Linked DNA regions of Homo sapiens. The protein of the gene in region 1 interacts with the protein of each later gene in a pairwise test. Each region holds a gene or a part of one and is shown in the gene's direction. Other genes may lie near its edges.

The links. The genes of interacting proteins can lie anywhere in the genome.
Region 2: the proteins of DMRT3 (region 1) and HSF2BP interact in binary tests that used the Homo sapiens proteins (3 or more experiments, as listed by UniProt).
Region 3: the proteins of DMRT3 (region 1) and FHL3 interact in binary tests that used the Homo sapiens proteins (3 or more experiments, as listed by UniProt).
Region 4: the proteins of DMRT3 (region 1) and PLEKHF2 interact in binary tests that used the Homo sapiens proteins (3 or more experiments, as listed by UniProt).

Annotation. Positions count from the first base shown.
Region 1 is NC_000009.12:988,595-993,455, forward strand, and holds the end of DMRT3 (doublesex- and mab-3-related transcription factor 3), read left to right. Parts: intron 1-1,446; coding exon 1,447-2,411; 3' UTR 2,412-3,138; downstream 3,139-4,861. UniProt on the Homo sapiens protein: Probable transcription factor that plays a role in configuring the spinal circuits controlling stride in vertebrates.
Region 2 is NC_000021.9:43,533,989-43,538,524, reverse strand, and holds part of HSF2BP (heat shock factor 2-binding protein), read left to right. Parts: intron 1-4,536. UniProt on the Homo sapiens protein: Meiotic recombination factor component of recombination bridges involved in meiotic double-strand break repair.
Region 3 is NC_000001.11:37,999,393-38,003,550, reverse strand, and holds part of FHL3 (four and a half LIM domains protein 3), read left to right. Parts: intron 1-4,118; 5' UTR 4,119-4,138; coding exon 4,139-4,158. UniProt on the Homo sapiens protein: Recruited by SOX15 to FOXK1 promoters where it acts as a transcriptional coactivator of FOXK1.
Region 4 is NC_000008.11:95,152,949-95,157,185, forward strand, and holds the end of PLEKHF2 (pleckstrin homology domain-containing family F member 2), read left to right. Parts: intron 1-1,082; 5' UTR 1,083-1,096; coding exon 1,097-1,846; 3' UTR 1,847-3,737; downstream 3,738-4,237. UniProt on the Homo sapiens protein: May play a role in early endosome fusion upstream of RAB5, hence regulating receptor trafficking and fluid-phase transport. Enhances cellular sensitivity to TNF-induced apoptosis.

The DNA of each region.
Region 1 (4,861 bases):
CATAAGTAGGCCCTTAAGGCTTTTAAAATGACAAGTGTAGGAGAAGATTGTTTCTAGAGGGTGCTTTGATGAAATTTCACCGGCTGGCTATCTGTATATAATCAGGTGTGCCCACAGAGAAGGCAACAATGAAGCTATTCAGGCAGGGCAGCAGAAAACACAGGCAAAGCAATTGTTTACAACTCAACAACTGGGTCATTAGGAATTTTCATCTTTCGATCAGCTACCCTGGCTTTGAGTAGCCACAGCCAGCGCGTGTTTCAAAAAAGGACAAAACTCTATTTGCAAATAGCTTGCTACTAAAAAATATGTTTCTTTATTATAAAGTCCTGTTGGAATTTACTACTGCAAAGCAAACCACTCTGACTTACTCTTTTCTGTGTGCTTAGCCCTGCAATATTACCAGCTGTTAAGTAAAAATGTTCTTAGGTCAAGATGTTAAATTTGCAACTGGTTTACTTTATCGCAAGTCTCTGCTTTATTTGGGAAGCCTTTTTTTCCCTCCTTCTTCTTTTCATATAATATAAAAAGGTATCTTCAAATTTCACTGGCTTTAAAAAAAGGTATCTTCAAGTCCTTTCCATGAACTGTACCAGCAAAACAGTTCATGCACAGGTATCTGCCTCGTGCCACCCGTGGCGGTGGAGTGTGATGCGTTGTTTCATTGATGGATAATAATGCCCCCGTGCAATTTAACAAACCCTTTCTAGCCACTTCCTTTTTTCCTCTCCAGCAACTTATCCTGCCATCCGGAATTCATAGCTGGTTTCGTTTGCTTTCTAGTACAAGTTATTGGCAACCAAGTTTGCCAATGCCTCAAGTGGCTTCTTATGAAAGATTTCAATGGATAGAGGTATCTTTCACTTCAGCAATTGAATTAGCTAGCTATTGTATATGGTAACCTGATGCAACTTACTGATTGGTTCATAAGACATATTTAACACAAAATCAGCCTATGGGAAAATAGATTTCAGATATTAAAATTCCCTGTGGGTATCTGGATGGTACTATCCCTAGATAACAGCTGGGGACCTTATTTGCAGAAGAGGAGCCGGAAGACAAGCTGAGCTGATTTTCCTGTTTCTCCCTGAGCTTTGCTCTTCCAGGAGTCCCCCACCCCTCCTCCCAAAGAGGCTCTCTATTGAGATTGTTACTGCTATGAAAGCCATATGTTACAGGTTCATGTAGCCATTCTATGTTGAAGGCAAGCTTCCTTGCACAAAGCATTCCAGGAAGCCACTCTGATTTCTAGATCTTTATTTACAGGGTTTTTGTTTCATTTGCCAGTGATATAGTTCGAATTTTTTTAAAAAGGCTTGTAGTATATTATGACCCATTGAGATGCATTTGCTCTTCCAAAAAGCACGTGTACAGGTCTCTTCTGAGCACATCTGCTCCTCTTTATGCACACCAGGAAAAGATTAACTCAGCTGTTCTGTTTTCCAGATTTGACTGAAGAACGACTTGGAGACGGCAAGTCGGCAGACAATACAGAGGTCTTCAGTGACAAAGACACTGACCAGAGGAGTTCCCCAGATGTGGCAAAGAGTAAGGGCTGCTTCACCCCTGAGAGCCCTGAGATAGTGTCCGTGGAGGAAGGGGGATACGCTGTCCAGAAAAACGGAGGCAACCCCGAGAGCCGCCCTGACAGCCCCAAGTGTCACGCGGAGCAGAATCACCTCCTGATTGAGGGCCCCTCGGGGACTGTTTCTCTGCCCTTCAGCTTGAAAGCCAACAGACCGCCGCTTGAAGTGTTAAAAAAGATATTCCCCAACCAGAAGCCAACGGTGCTTGAGCTCATCCTCAAGGGCTGTGGCGGGGACCTGGTGAGCGCCGTGGAAGTCCTTCTGTCCAGCCGATCCTCAGTCACGGGAGCAGAGCGAACTTCCGCAGAACCTGAGAGTCTAGCGTTGCCCTCCAATGGGCACATCTTTGAACACACCTTGAGCTCCTACCCCATCTCGTCTTCCAAATGGTCTGTGGGATCAGCCTTTCGAGTCCCAGACACGTTGAGGTTTTCTGCCGACTCTAGCAACGTTGTCCCCAGTCCCTTGGCTGGGCCTCTGCAGCCCCCTTTCCCCCAGCCACCCCGGTACCCGCTGATGCTGAGGAATACTTTGGCGAGAAGCCAGTCGAGCCCCTTTTTGCCCAATGATGTCACCCTGTGGAACACCATGACGCTGCAGCAGCAGTATCAGCTGAGGTCCCAGTATGTCAGTCCTTTCCCCAGTAACTCTACCAGCGTCTTCAGAAGCTCGCCCGTCCTTCCTGCCCGCGCCACGGAAGACCCTCGGATTTCCATCCCTGATGATGGGTGTCCATTTGTGTCAAAGCAGTCCATTTACACCGAGGACGACTATGACGAGAGGTCTGACTCCTCAGACTCTAGAACACTCAACACATCATCTTAAAGTGGTGCTGGATGGGTGGTGGCCAGGTGACATTTTCTGTGCGTTTTGACCCTGAGGCATCTGAGGAGAGGCCACATCTTGTGTATGCCCTTTCCTTCTGTTTGACAAAGTGACTGTGCTTGATTCTATACATTAGCAATAAAAACATAACTTATTTAACTTCTTGCACTTCACTGGAAAATGCCAAATAGCTCTGTTCTGTGGCTTTAGTGCTGAATGTTTATTGTAAAAGAGAGTCTAATGTTAAGAATAGTCTTGGGAAGGCTGGGTCCGTGGAAGATTTATTTGGGGATGTAAAGCTGAAGGTCAGCCTTGCACCTAAACCCAACCTGGAATGTTAAATGAAATAATATACTTGAATGCAATTTTGTAAAAGTGGATTCCTCAGGATATGTGAAACCTAAAGGAAGTGGTTCTGTTGCAAATGGACTATAAACAGGGACATTATATTCTTACACTAAAAATCCTTGCATTTTAAAGAGAGATGCACTTAAGAATAGAGTGAACTGCTCATATGCTTATTTAAGCTTGGACAGTTTTCAGAGACAAACCCCATTAAGAATTACTCTTTTCACATGGCTGAATCGAAACATGTGTAATGTCAATGTAAAACCAATCACAGCTGTGAACTGCATGAAATGTATTGTGAAACGAACACAAGATTAAGCTTTGTCAGGTTAATGTAGCATGTTAAGGACTCTAGAAAAAAATAAACTAAGGAGACGAGCGTGGTTTATGTCATTTCTACTTGTGGAAAGAGGATCTCTAAAAATAGAAACTTGATGTAAAAATGACTTTTACTAACGCATGGGCCAGGAATCAAATTATCAGTTAAATGAGACATTCCTGAGAAATATGAATGGCAAAGTTTTAGGGTTGCATTCAGAAAGATAATTTGTTCAAAATGGAGTTAATTCTCTCCATCCATTCACTTATTCAACAGATACTTACTGAGTGCCTACTATGTGTAAGAGAATGTGCTTTCCATGTATTGTCCAAGTTACCTACCCGTGAGTCCTAGATAAGCAGATATTTTAGTGGAGAATCCCATTGAAAACAAAGTAAAAATGGAAAACTCCCAACAATGTATAGTTGAGTGTGGGAAGCAAGGAAAGTGCTTAGCCCAGTACCTGACATAGGAAGTATGCAGTCCATGAAAACTACTGCTTCTATTAATGAAATTCAGTAGCCTTGCATTCAGAATATAGACGTGCATTCCTTCATTCTTACTTGGAGACCATGCCATTCTGGTTTGAGGCAAAACATTGAAAACCAGGGCTTTTTTCTTTCGTTTTAAAAACATTCTTGAGGTGCTGTATATGACAAACTTCTTGCTCAGATTTTTTTTTTTAGAGAGAAGTTTCAAACAGTAACATTCAGTGGTGCTCACACCAACCACTTCTCTGACTTACTGTTTCCATTTTTCAAAGTGCTTGAAAGGTAAGATGACTGCTTAGGTCAGACAATAAACTTACAAATGTGGAAGGGAAAGTAAATAAGCAAATAAATAAAAGCCTCTACATGACAAGGATGCAGAGAGAGCTCCCAGTGCAGGAATAAGTCTTAAAAGGTTCTTCGGTCCTCGGAGGGAGAAGGGCAAGTTCTCTCAGCCTGAGATGCTCCCCACCCTTGAATGGGTTCCCAAGAGAAGGGAGATATGTAAAAGAGCCTTCTCATTTTTAATTCCACTGGGCACTTTTGACATGAAAAACCTTTGAGGAGAAAAAATCCCCTGTATTAGTTGGACTACTATGTATTTAATTGACATAGTTACATACTAGAGTGTTTAAATACGGGCCAGGCATGGTGGCTCATGCTTATAATCCCAGCACTTTGGGAGGCCGAGGCAGGCAGATCGCTTGAACTCATGAGTTTGAGACCAGCTTTTGTATTTTTGTCTCTACAAAAAATACAAAAATTAGCCAGGTGTGGTGGCATGTACCTGTAGTCCCAGCTACTTGGGAGGCTGAGGTGGGAGGATGGCTTGAGCTGGGGAAGCAAAAGTTGCAGTGGACAGAGATTGTACCACTGTACTCTAGCCTGGGCCATAGAGCCAGACCTTGTCTCAAAAAAAAAAAAAAAAAAAGGGAAATATGGCTTCTTGTTAGGGTTATATTTAAACATTAATGTTTATATAAGGAAGAAAGGGAGTAGAAGGGAGAGCAGTTTGCCCCCTGATTCTAAAGACATGTCCAGGACATTTTATGTGGCAATGAAGTGCTGATGTCTGGACCTATCTAGGACAAATGTATTTTAAAGGCATCTTCATTGCAAAAGTTTACCCACATTTAACAAGCAATAATGATAATGTACCACAGCACCTAAGCCAAGATGCTAAAAAGCCTGTCCTCAGATATTACATCTTCAGGTTGAACCACCCAAATTGAACAAAACCTCACTGATAACGGCATCCTTACAGCTTGATTTTGCCTATAAATAATTATCATTGG
Region 2 (4,536 bases), on another chromosome or scaffold:
GCGTGGGCAAGAGAACCAGACTCTGTCTCAGACAAAGAAAGAAACAAACAAACAAACAGTTTAATTCTAGCTGCAGCATGGCAGATGGATAGGGGTAGGAAGAGGCAAGAATGCAAAATTAAATAAGCAAGCCACCAAGAAGGCTATTACAGTAGTCTGGGGGAAGCAGGATAGCTTAGACTAGGGTGGTGGTTATGGGCTTAGGGCGTGTTGGGAGGTAGAGTTGATAAGATGTGATGTGAGAGAAGAGACGAATCAATAACAATACCTGCCATCTTTGGGTGGGTAAATGGTAATGCTGTTTACTGAGAATACCTGCATCTTTGGGTGGGTAAATGGTAACGTTGTTTACTGAGATGGGGAAGATGAGGCAGGAGCACAGAGAATCAGGAGTTGGGTGTTGGCCTTGTGAAACCTGAGTTGGCAGTAAATTCCCAAGGGGAGTTGTCCAGGCAAGTTTTTGTGGCTATGAAGTCTGGAATTCCAGGGAAAGGCTGGGGTTGGAGAAATGGATTTAGAGTCACTGGTAGATACATGGGATTTGAAGTCATGGAGTAGACGAAGTCACCTAAGGAGAGTAGAAAGAGAAGGAAGCCTAGGACAGAGCCCTGGGCTAGCATCTAAAGGAGAAGTATAAGGAGGGACTGGTGAAGGAGTGCTATGGAAGCCAAGAAAAGCCAGAGGAGTCAAGTGAGACGAAAGCTGAGCAGTGACAACATGGAGGACATTGGTGACCTTGAGAGAAGCTGTCTCAGCAGTGAGCAGATGGTAGCGTGACTGAAGGGTGAAGGTGAGGTGGGGCGGTAGCAACAACAGACCACTCTTGTAATATTCCTGGGAAGGGAGTCAAGAACTGGGCAGAACTGGAGGCCAGTTTGGGGTCAAGGAAGATTTTTTTTTTTTTTTTGCCTTCTTGTTCTTTGAAGCTTGTAAGAATGGGCTTATGTTGCTGCTCGATGACTCCATGTTCCTAGGTGCTCAAGGAGCCTGGGGCATTGCCTAAGATGTGGCTGACATGGTCCAGAATCCATATGTGCTTTGGAGGTGGCCAGGAAGCCCATAGGAGGAGGGAATGCTCAGTGTGTGCCCTGAGAGCTTTGCCACTGTCAGAAAGCACCTGACAGGAACAAGTTTGATTGTATTTGACACATGCCGGCACTACCACAGAAAGTTTTAGCAACAGATAAGAGGGGACATCTGTACTCTCAACTTCTTTTTTCATACTTCCTATTGAAGTTTTCATCTCTACTCTCAGGCATTTAATTTCTAAGACTGCTGTTTATTTTTAATTGTCTTAAAAAATAGCATCCCATTCTTGTTTAACAGATGATATAGCTTCTTTTACCTCCTTGAGGAAGATATTAATAATAGTTTTTTAAAACTTTTCTTCTCACTGCACAATCTCTTTTCTTTGTCCTCCTTTTGTTCCTGTTTAAAATGATAGCCATTTATCTTTTTCTCAGGTGTCTGGTGATGTGTGGTTGTCTGGTCATGTTTAACAGTGGGATTTATAATGCCGATTGGAAGCTGTGAGCATATGGGTGGAGCTTCTGAACTTTTCTGCAGTGTGAGCTGGTGCATCAATTAATTGGGAACCCATAGGTCAGTATCTTCGACTGTGTTGTCTTGGGTTGTTCAGATTGTCTGGAGAAGACTCACCCACCCTTATTTCTGGAGGGATGAAGGCCTATAAACTCCGGAAACAAAGTAGAGATAGAGGGAATGTCTTAGAGCTTGTAGGTATGTGTTTATCTAATCCACATGTTTTCCAGACAGAACCTCCATCCTCAATTGTGCCTGATGTTTCACCTCCAGAGATTCTTTAGAAAATAAATGTCCAGGCCAGGTGGGGTGGTTCACACCTCTAATCCCAGCACTTTGGGAGGCTGAGGTGGGCGGATCACCTGAGGTCAGGAGTTCGAAACCAGACTGGCCAACATGATGAAACCCCGTCTCTACTAAAAATATAAAAATTAGCTGGGTGTGGTGGCAGGTGCCTGTGATCCCAGCTACTCAGGATGCTGAGGCAGGACAATCACTTGAACTGGGAGGCGGAGGTTGCGGTGAGCTGAGATTACGTCACTACACTCCAGCCTGGGTGACAGAGTGAGACTCTGTCTCACAAAAAAAAAGAAAAGAAAAGAAATGTCCAGTCTCTACTAGGGAAGGGCATTTTTCCAGAGGCAGGGAATAGGGGAGAGGGTCCAGGGATCTAATTTCTTATTATTATTTTTATTTTTTTTTAGTTTTGAGATGCAGTCTTAACTCTGTCGCCCAGGTTGGAGTGCAATGGCGTGATTTCAGCTCACTGCAACCTCTGCCTCTGGGGTTCAAGTGATTCTCCTGCCTCAGCCTCCCAGGTAGCTGGGATTACAGGTGCCTGCCATGACACCTGGCTAATTTTTGTATTTTTAGTAGAGACAGGGTTTCACCATGTTTTTCAGGCTGGTCTCGAACTCCTGACCTTAGGTGATCCACCTACCTTGGCCTCACAAAGTGCTGGGATTACAGGCGTGAGCCACCAAGCCTGGCCTTCTTCTTATTTTTAATATAAAGCCAGATTTGTTGAGTTATAATTTACATAGAACAAAATTCACTTGTTAGTAGACAATTGTATGAGTTGTGACATAAAACTATCTCAGCATATAACTCATATGCTGAGTTATGTGGTAAGTATGTGTTTAAATGTATAGGAAATTGCCAAATTGTTGTCTCAGGTGGTTGTACCATTTTATTTATTTTATTTTATTTTATTTTATTTTATTTTATTATTTTATTTTATTTTATTTTATTTTATTTTATTTTATTTTATTTTATTATTTTATTTTATTTTATTTTATTTTATTTATTTTATTTATTTTTGAGACAGAGTCTCGCTCTATTGCCCAGGCTGGAGTGCAGTGGCACGATCTCGGCTCACTGCAACCTCCACCTCGTGGGTTCAAGTGATTCTCCTGCCTCAGCCTCCCAAGTAGCTAGGATTACAGGCGTGCACCACCACACCCAGCTAATTTTTGTATTTTTAGTAGAGATGGGGTTTCACCATGGAGGCCAGGCTGGTCTCAAGTTCCTGACCTCAGGTGATCTGCCTGCCTCAGCCTCCCAAAGTGTTGGGATTACAGGCGTAAGCCACTGCGCCTGGCCTGGCAGTACCATTTTAAATTTTCACCACTAATCTATGAACATTCCAGTTGTTCCTCATTCTTGTCAACACTTGGTATTTTCAGATTTTTATTTTTTAATTTTAGCCATTCTAATAGGTATGGATTTAATTTCCATTTTTCTAATAGCCATGATGCTGAGCATCTTTTTGTGTGCTTGCCATTTGTGTATCTCCTTTGGTGAAGTGTCTTTTCAAACACTTTCCCTATTTTTATTGGGCTGTTGTGTTACTGAGTTTTCAGAGATGTATGTGTATTCTGGATTTAGGTCCTTTATCAGATACGTGTTTTGCAAATGTTTTGTCCTCATCTAGTGGCTTGTCTTTTCATTGTGACTGTCTTTTGAAGAGCAGATTTTTAAAATTTTGGTGTGGCTAATAAATTATTTAGTTGTATGGATTATGCTTTTGGTTTTGTGTCTAGGAAATTGTTACCTAATTCAAGGTCACAAAGATTTTTCTCCTGTTTTCTTCCAGAAGTTTTAAAATTTGGGGTTTTACATTTAGGTATGTTATTAATTTTTGTATAATTTTTGTATGTTAGGCAAGGTATAGATTGAAGTTCTTTGTTTTTGCATATGGATGTTCAATTTTTCCAGCACCATTTGTTGTAAAGGTTATTCTTTCTTGATTGAATTGAATGTATACCTTTGTTGAGAGTTCACAAAGCTGTGGTCTGTTTTTGGATCCTCTAATTTTATTTCACTTATCTCTTTGTCTGTCGCTCTGTCACTTGACCAGTACCACACTCTTTATGGCCATAAATGTTGAAATCTAGTACTGCAATTCCCCAACATTTCTCTTTCTCTAAATTGTTTTGTCTGGTCTAGTTCCTTTGTTTTTCCAAATAAATTTGAGAATTACTTGTTGATTTCTGCTAAAATTTCAACTTGGATTTTGGTTGGCATTGCATTGATTATATAGATGAATTTGAGGAGATTTGACATTTTAACAATATTGAGTCTTCTAGTCCATAAATATGGCATATTCTCTCCATCTATATGTCTGTGGATCCTTATATCTGTGTTTTGTTGTTTTCAGCATAGAAATCTTGCACATAGTTTCATGAGATTTATACTTAAGTGTTTCATGTTTTGGTGCTATTATATAATATATGGTAATTTTTAAAAAACATTAGATTTTTAATTTTTTGTTATAAGTATGTGGATACAATTGACCTTTGTATGTTGAATTTGTATTCTGTGACTTTGCTAAACTCAATTAGTTCTAATAACTTTTTTTCTAGTTTCTTTGGGATTTTCTGTATAGACAATCATATCATCTGCAAATAGAGACAGTTTCATTTCTGCCTTTCTAATCAATAAACCTTTTATTTCTTTTTCTTGCCTTACTGCACAGGCTAGGATCTCTAGTAT
Region 3 (4,158 bases), on another chromosome or scaffold:
CTCAAGAGTTAAGCTTACTAGAGTCAGGCTGACCGGACTGAAGCGACCACTTTCCCCACTGGTGTCCTCAGCAAGCCCCATGGGCCTGGGGCCCCCTATTCTCTCCCTGGGCCTATGCTGAGAATGTCCAGGTCAAATTTCAGACCAGGCTGGGCACAGTGGCTCACGCCTGTAACCCCAGCACTTTGGAAGGCTGAGGCCAGAGGATCACTTGAAGCCAGGAGTTCAAGACCACCCTGGGCAACATAGTGAGAACCCCATCTCTACAAAAAATAGAAAAACCTAGCTGGGCATGGTGGCACATGGCTGTAGTCCCATCTACTCAGGAGGCTGAGGCAGGTGGTTTGCTTGAGCCCAGAGTTGTTTTTTTTGTTGTTGTTTTGTTTTGTTTTGAGACAGAGTTTTGCTGTTGTAGCCCAGGCTGGAGTGTAATGACATGATCTTGGCTCACTGCAACCTTCACCTCCTCGGTTCAAGCAATTCTCCTGCCTCAGCCTCCTGAGTAGCTGGGCTTACAGGCGCCCGCCACCATGCCTAGTTAATTTTTGTATTTTTAGTGGAGATGGGTTTTCACCATGTTGGCCAGGCTGGTCTTGAACTCCTGACCTCAGGTGATCCACCGGCCTTAACCTCCCAAAGTGCTGGGATTACAGGTGTGAGCCACCTCACCTGGCTGAGCACAGAAGTTCGAGGCTGCCGTGAGCCATGATCGTGCCACTGCACTCCAGCCCTGGCAACAGAGTGAGACCCCAACTCAAAACAAAAAAAAAAAACAAAAAGGCTGAGCGGACACCAGCTTGGCCAACATGGCGAAACTCTCCATCTCTACTAAAAATACAAAAATTAGCTGGGCATGGTGGTGCCCTCCTGTAATCCCAGCTACTTGGGAGGCTGAGGCAGAAGAATCGCTTGAACCTGGGAGGTGGAGATTGCAGTGAGCCGAGATGGAGTTAACTGCGCTCCAGTCTGGGTGACAGAGTGAGACCCTGTCTCAAAAAAAAAAAAAAAAAAAAAATTGGGCTGGCACTGTGGCTCATGCCTGTAATCCCAGCACTTTGGGAACCCAAGGCAAGAGGATAGCTTGAGCCCAGGAGTTTGAGACCAGCCTGCGCAGCATATTGAGACCCCATCTCTATTTAAAAATTCTAGTCCAGGCAGGGTGTGGTGGTTCATGCCTGTAATCCCAGCACTTTGGGAGGCTGAGGCAGGGAGATCATGAGGTCAGGAGTTCGAGACCATCCTGACTAACACAGTGAAACCCCGTCTCTACTAAAAATACAAAAAATTAGCCGGGCGTGGTAGCAGGTGCCTGTAGTCCCAGCTACTCGGGAGGCTGAGGGAGGAGAATCACTTGAACCCGGGAGGTGGAGGTTGCAGTGAGCCGAGATTGCGCCACTGTACCCCAGCCTGGGCGACAGAGCGAGACTCTGTCTCAAAAAAAAAAAAAAAATTCCAGTCCAGCTGCTTGACCCAGACCTGCCTGTGAAACTGCTATCTGGCCCCAGTATGAGTGAGGGCGCTAATAGTAAAATACTAATAGCTACCATTTTCTGAGTATTTATTATCTGCCAGGTGCTTTACAAGTATCATCACATTTAAGCCTGACAACAAACTTAGGAGGTAGGAAGTGGTAGTATCTCATTTAATTAGATGGGAAAACAGGCTTAGGGATTTGCCCAAGATCACTCAGCCAGTAAGTGCAGGAGCCAGGATTCAAACCTTACAGCTTGAGCTGCTCCATACACCATAGCCAGTTACGCAGTCATTCTGAGCTCCAGGAGGTTCACTGGGAGGTGCCTTGTGAGGGGAGATTGTTGGAGGTGCAGGGTTGTGAGCCATCTGTAGAGGAGCAGTCTCCCCCAAACCCCGCCCCACTGCCGGTCAGGAAGGAATACAAGGCTGGCTCCCTTCAGTCCCCGCAGTCCCCAGCCTTGCCAGGGAAAAGGGCAGGGAGAGGGGTATGGGCAGAGACAGGTGGGCCTTGTTGGTGCCCTTTACTCTGTCCTCACCAGAGCCCAGCTGGATAGACTAGGGCATTGGGGGATTCTGGGAAGGAAATAGAAGCCATGCCCATACCCTATTTGGGTTGCCCTGGTTTCGGAGTGCTGACTGTCTCTCAGGGGGTGGACCCAAGTCTAGCCTGGGCCTGAGAAGGTGGCAGCCGCAGTGGGCCAAGCCAAGAAGGAAGGAAGAGGCCCAGGCACCCCCTGTGGACGCATTCCACCTGTGTGGCCCCCTGCTGCCCCGTGGCTGACAGCCCAGGCAATCCTCAGATGTTGGGCCAGAGGAAACCTGGGCCTGAGTGGCAGGAAGGGGGCTGAGAAAGAGGAGTATCTTCTCTACACCATAGCCCCCAGCCCAGGAGTTCCAGCTCTAAAGACCCTGGCCCCTGGTGGCCTCATGCCCTGGCCTGGAGCGCAAGCTGGCTGTTCTCCCATTGCGCAGAGGCTTGATGTATGGAGAGTCAGGCCTCCAAGCTGGGGGCATCTGCTGGTGCCTGGAGTCTGAACTTCAAGCCAGAGCAGCGCTTGTTGTCAAGAATTTCGCACTGGGGGTGGATGAGAAAAGGAGGACTTCTCCTTCAGCTTGAGCCAGGGCAGGCCCTGGCGACTGCCAGCACTGGAGCCTTGTGGGAGAGTGGGTTGGTGGATTCCTTTGTGTGTCCCTGTAACTTCCCCGGGCTCATCCACAGCTGTGAGAACATCTCCTTCCTATGGGTCCTGGTGGTTCCTCTCCACTACCCCAGGATCCCAGCCCTTAGAGAGCAGCCTTCATGATGGAGGAGAGCAGGGGTGGGAGCTCTGACTTTGGGGCTAGAGACTGGAATCCGGGGCAGCAGAAAGGTCTGGGAACCCCACTTCCCTACCGCTCCACTCCCTAGGCTCCTGTTCCAGAGGCAGCTGTGTGGATGACCTCATCCCACAAACATGCTTTGTTCCTGAGAAAATGGAAAGTGTCTGAGGTTTGGTCGGGGGCTGGGTGTCTCCAGCAGCAGCTCTCAGGGCTCCCCCTTGTCCTACTCCCCACCCAAGATGGGGCCTGATTGGGGAGAAAATGTCTTCAGTGGCTCTTGCTCTCTCTCCTTTCAGCTCCCTAGTCCCAAACCCTGAGAAATCGGAAAAGGTGGGAGAGACCTTCTCTCCCAGAGGCAGTAGGAGGGAAATCATGACCCCAGGGGATGGAAAGATCCTGGGGTTTTGCCAGATGTTAGCAGGAGGTGGCAGGGGGTACACTGCACTCCCAGTCTGTCTCCAGTTCCCCTCTGCCTCCCCCGACACTTCATTTTCCTTTTTTCTCCCCATTGCTGGCAAAACCTGACATCTGGCCATCTGTGCCGCCACAGCTGCTGCAGATGTTACAGGCCAAGGCTGTCCAAGCTGGTGTGACACAGCGGGGGTGGGGGGATGAGGGCAGAGGGTCTAGCTAGGGAAGACTGGCTGTGTCCAGCTTGCAGGATTTCCTTCCTGCTTGAACCTAAGCTGAGCCTCTGAAGTTCCCATTGCTTGGCTGATTCCCCGGGAGGGAAGGCCCAACCTCTCACACTGGCCTCTTCTACCATTCATTAGTCCAGCACCTCTCTAGCATTCCACTGTTTTCTGGATCAGGAGGGGCAGGCACAGCCCATTCCCGTCTCTAAGTTCTGTACTCCAGAGCTCTGGTTAAGGGTTCCTTTATCCATATTCCTAAAGTCCCTTCCTGGGAGTCAGGAGAGGGTGGGAGTACTGCTCATAAGGAGTAGAGTGGGGTGGCTCCCTGCCCCTGCTTCTCCCACGCTGGGGACAGTCGGGACAGTGGAGGCTAGACGCTGGCTGGGACAGGAAATGAGTCACTGACCCAGGAAAAGCCCCCTCCCCCTAGATCTGCTAGGGCCTAGATAAGAAAACAACTTCTGCTTCCTGGTTTTTTTCCTGACCTCTTCCTACCCCGAGTTAAATACAGAAAGAAACATGTGGGATTCCTGGTTTCCCAGAAGCACCCCTTCCCCATCCCCACCTACTCTGAACTGGCATTTCCTATGCCGGGTCTCTTGGCTGTGTTTTGAATGCAGAGGCCTCTTTGCCAGGAGCCAAGCCACAGCCTCTCTGTGTGACCCCAGTTCCACCTTGTGCTCCTAACAGGGTTCTCTCCCCTTGCCACCATGAGCGAGTCATTTGACTG
Region 4 (4,237 bases), on another chromosome or scaffold:
GATACAACTCTGGGACTTGAGTGAAGTCAATATTGGACTTAGAGATTAAATGTTTAGATTAATAGGGTGTTTTGCACATTGTTAAAATGTTATTAACATTTTTTAGTACCTTTTCTGTGTCAAACCGTATCAGTTTCAAACAAAACTATCAGATGATCTCTGCTTTTTAGGTTCTGCATGGTCTCTGGAGGAACAGATTTCAGTCCTTTGGTAAAAGTGAAGCTAGAATATACATGGAATATGGATAGCTCACAGGAAGGGTTTTAGTCTAGCATGGGAGTTTAAAGGAGGCTTCCTGGAGGAGACACGATTACCTAAACTAAGTCTCGAAGGATGAATATGAGTTAGCTGCAGTAGTAAGTAGTAAAAGGAACAACAGTGAAATGGACTACAAGTAGTAGAGTGTTCTTAGAATATGACATTTGAGGTGAAGACTGACTTATGGTGAGGTTGGAGTGACAAGAACCAAGTAATGAAAGGCCGTGAACACCCTGTATTTAATAGGTTAAGGGATCATTTTGAGCAATGATGGGGTCAAATTAGGGTTTTAGAGATCACTGCCCAAAGATTGATTTGGGGGCAAGATTGAAGGCCAGGACACATGTTGGGAAACAGTTCTAGTAATCCAGGTGAGAGAATTAAGGCTGTAGCTCAGTGGTAATAGCTTACTTGGAAAATTGTAGTCATTTTTCTTAGTTTATGTAACATTTTGTTCCCTATTGTTCAGAATCCCATTGAGATTACATTTCATTGAATGGGGTTTATTATTTTGCAGAGATAAGTTATGTTAATTATCCAATCGTCTTTCATTCAATTATGTCTGTAGGAAGTTTATACTTTTACAAATACCTGCTTAACTAGTATGGTGCTACGTGGAGATGATAAATAAGTGTTTTTCATCATTTTAAAAATTGAGAAATGTTAGCCCTTTTGATGTGCTTAGTGATTATCTTAGAGGGAAAGAATTTTAGAACATTTTGCCTTTGTGTAAAAGCAATGATTTGTTAGCTTAATTTATATATAATTAACTTATAGGAATTTATAATTTATATGTGCTAATTTCTTTTTCTTTTTTTTAAAAGGCTATTAGTGAAAGATGGTGGATCGCTTGGCAAACAGTGAAGCAAATACTAGACGTATAAGTATAGTGGAAAACTGTTTTGGAGCAGCTGGTCAACCTTTAACTATACCTGGACGAGTTCTTATTGGAGAAGGAGTATTGACTAAGTTGTGCAGGAAAAAGCCCAAAGCAAGGCAGTTTTTCTTGTTTAATGATATTCTTGTATATGGCAATATTGTCATCCAGAAGAAAAAATATAACAAACAACATATTATTCCCCTGGAAAATGTCACTATTGATTCCATCAAAGATGAGGGAGACTTAAGGAATGGATGGCTAATCAAGACACCAACTAAATCTTTTGCAGTTTATGCTGCCACTGCTACGGAGAAATCAGAATGGATGAATCATATAAATAAATGTGTTACTGATTTACTCTCCAAAAGTGGGAAGACACCCAGTAATGAACATGCTGCTGTCTGGGTTCCTGACTCTGAGGCAACTGTATGTATGCGTTGTCAGAAAGCAAAATTCACACCTGTTAATCGTCGCCACCATTGCCGCAAATGTGGTTTTGTTGTCTGTGGGCCCTGCTCTGAAAAGAGATTTCTTCTTCCCAGCCAGTCCTCTAAGCCTGTGCGGATTTGTGACTTCTGCTATGACCTGCTTTCTGCTGGGGACATGGCCACATGCCAGCCTGCTAGATCAGACTCTTACAGCCAGTCATTGAAGTCTCCTTTAAATGATATGTCTGATGATGATGACGATGATGATAGCAGTGACTAAGGACACATTTGGGAGTATTTAATCAGGTGTGGCTATCTGAGAAATCAACTTTGGGGGAAATGTAAGATTCTGAGCTCTCTCTCTGTTTTGTTCTAGCCATGAATTTGCCTGAGAAACTTGTAACCTATGTGCCTCAATATATTCCATAGAAAGTAGGTCCCCCTGCCTTCTCCCACTCCTCACACTCTTCTACAGGGATAGGCTTTTGCAAATATATCAGATAAATTTTTTGTTTCTTGTTTATTTTTAGGTTATTTTCTTGGAAGGTTGGGAAAAGATGTTTGTTTTAACAGGTCATGTACTACGTTGTTGTTTTCATTTCTGTTATAAGTAAAACTAAAAGCACAGAATGGTGGGAAAGGGGCTATAATGTGGTTCATTAATAATGTTAGCAGCTTTTTTCTAACCATCCTGTCTAATGGTTAAGACACCAGTAACAAAAACACATGATTTGGAAATACTTTGGCTTTTTCATATACCTAGTGGTGCCTTATCATAATAGCACTGTTACATGAAATAAGCCCCTACCTTCTTACTTTCTGGTTTGTTGAAAAAATACACTGGTGCTCTTTGAAGTGATAAAATGAGTGTTTATGAATGGGTGTAATTAGGAAATACTTCTCATCTGACAGCTACAAATAACTAAGTTTGGAGGTATTTTCACTCTATATGAATAAATATTTTTCCATAAAATAGTTGTGATTATATTTTTGTTTTATATAGGTCCCAAATTATAATTGTCAAATATATATTTTAAATTAATAAAAGTTGTCATTCTTAGGAATTTGGTTTGAAATTTATCAGTTATACAGAATTGTCATACTGCATTAGCTTCTACCTTTAGTAAGACATATTTTTTAGGTATAAATTCTTATGCTTTAACATTATTTCTGGATTGAAAATCTTATAAAACCCTTGAAAATAAACAGTCTCTTTTTTACAAAGCCTGTGTTAGAGCACAGATTTACCTAGGCTTGAAGATTTGGAAGAAATAATATGTAAGAATGGCCTCAAGGCAGACCACTTTAAGTTTGGCTAGACTTCATATCGTGGAAGTATTGTCTATTTCAGTGTGAAACTATCTTGAATTTGCAAATATAGTGTTATATTTTATAAAGTTTTGTAAAATCCCAAACAATATTTCTATTTTTGTAAAACAATTGTATGTATAATCTGTATTTGAAATCATTTTGCAATCTATGGAAATAGAGTAGCAATTGCTATTTCTAAATTGTGAACTTTAAGTCAATCTAGATTTATTTTGAGAAGTAATTGTTCACTCTTTACTTTTGAGGCAGCCATTAGGTTGAAAGTATATATTTATCATATAAAACTTGATGCGTTTTGCACTACTCTTTCCATTTATATGCTGCAAACAACTACAGTCTTTGAAATATGGAAAATCAGCAGTCTAAAGTTTGTTTTAAATTCTAAATTTAAAAAATCTTCAAATCTGAATATACCGCAAATGTCATGAGAAGTTTGATTCAGTAACTTGTGATGGAGGATTCTTTGGTATCTTACTGTTTGGTTAAGGCACTAATTTTACTTACCTATTAGATTTTGAAAGTATCTGAGATATACAAATCTCCCTGTAGGAAATGTGAAAGAAAAGCACAACAAAACTAGGGTTTTTTGTTCATTTGCTTGCTTTTATGATTTTTTTTGGTTTGTTTTAATATCAGGTGGATTTTTGTTTCTAAGCAATATATACATAAAATCAACCAACATATCTGAAAAGGATCATGAAACCTGAGAAATGCTAATGGAGATTTGCTGGTACATAGGAATCTAGCAAATTCAGGAACCAAGGGGAAATGTTGTGAGATAACATTTACATTGTCAACCTTTATTGACTTTGTTTTTACAATAAAAAATATTTTACAACTTACTTTCTGTTCTCTGTATATTGTGACTTGAGGATTTACCCCCTCTGCTAAGATAATAAAGATATTATGCATATTTTGCCTAATAATTCAACAACTGTGAGTGCCTGCTATGTGCCAGGCATTGTTCTAGGCAGTAGGTTAGAGCAGTGAACAAAACTCCCTTTTGGATTTACCGCACGAAGGCTCAGAAAACATTCTTCCAAGTGTTGAAGATATGGCTTAATGTTACTGGGAAGTGCCTTAATATAATTTGGCTTTGCTGTCCAATTACTGTTAGAAGGAATGACTTGACCTGAATTGACATGTCTCAGAAGGAAACATACACATGGCTGACAGGTATATGAAGAAATGTCCAAGATCACTAATCATCAGGGAAATGCAAATTAAAACCACAATGAGATAATGGTAATACCTGATACCTGTTGAATGACTTATCAAAAAGATGAAAGAAGTGTTGGCAAGGATATGCAGAAAAGGAGACCCTTGCACACTGTTGGGAATG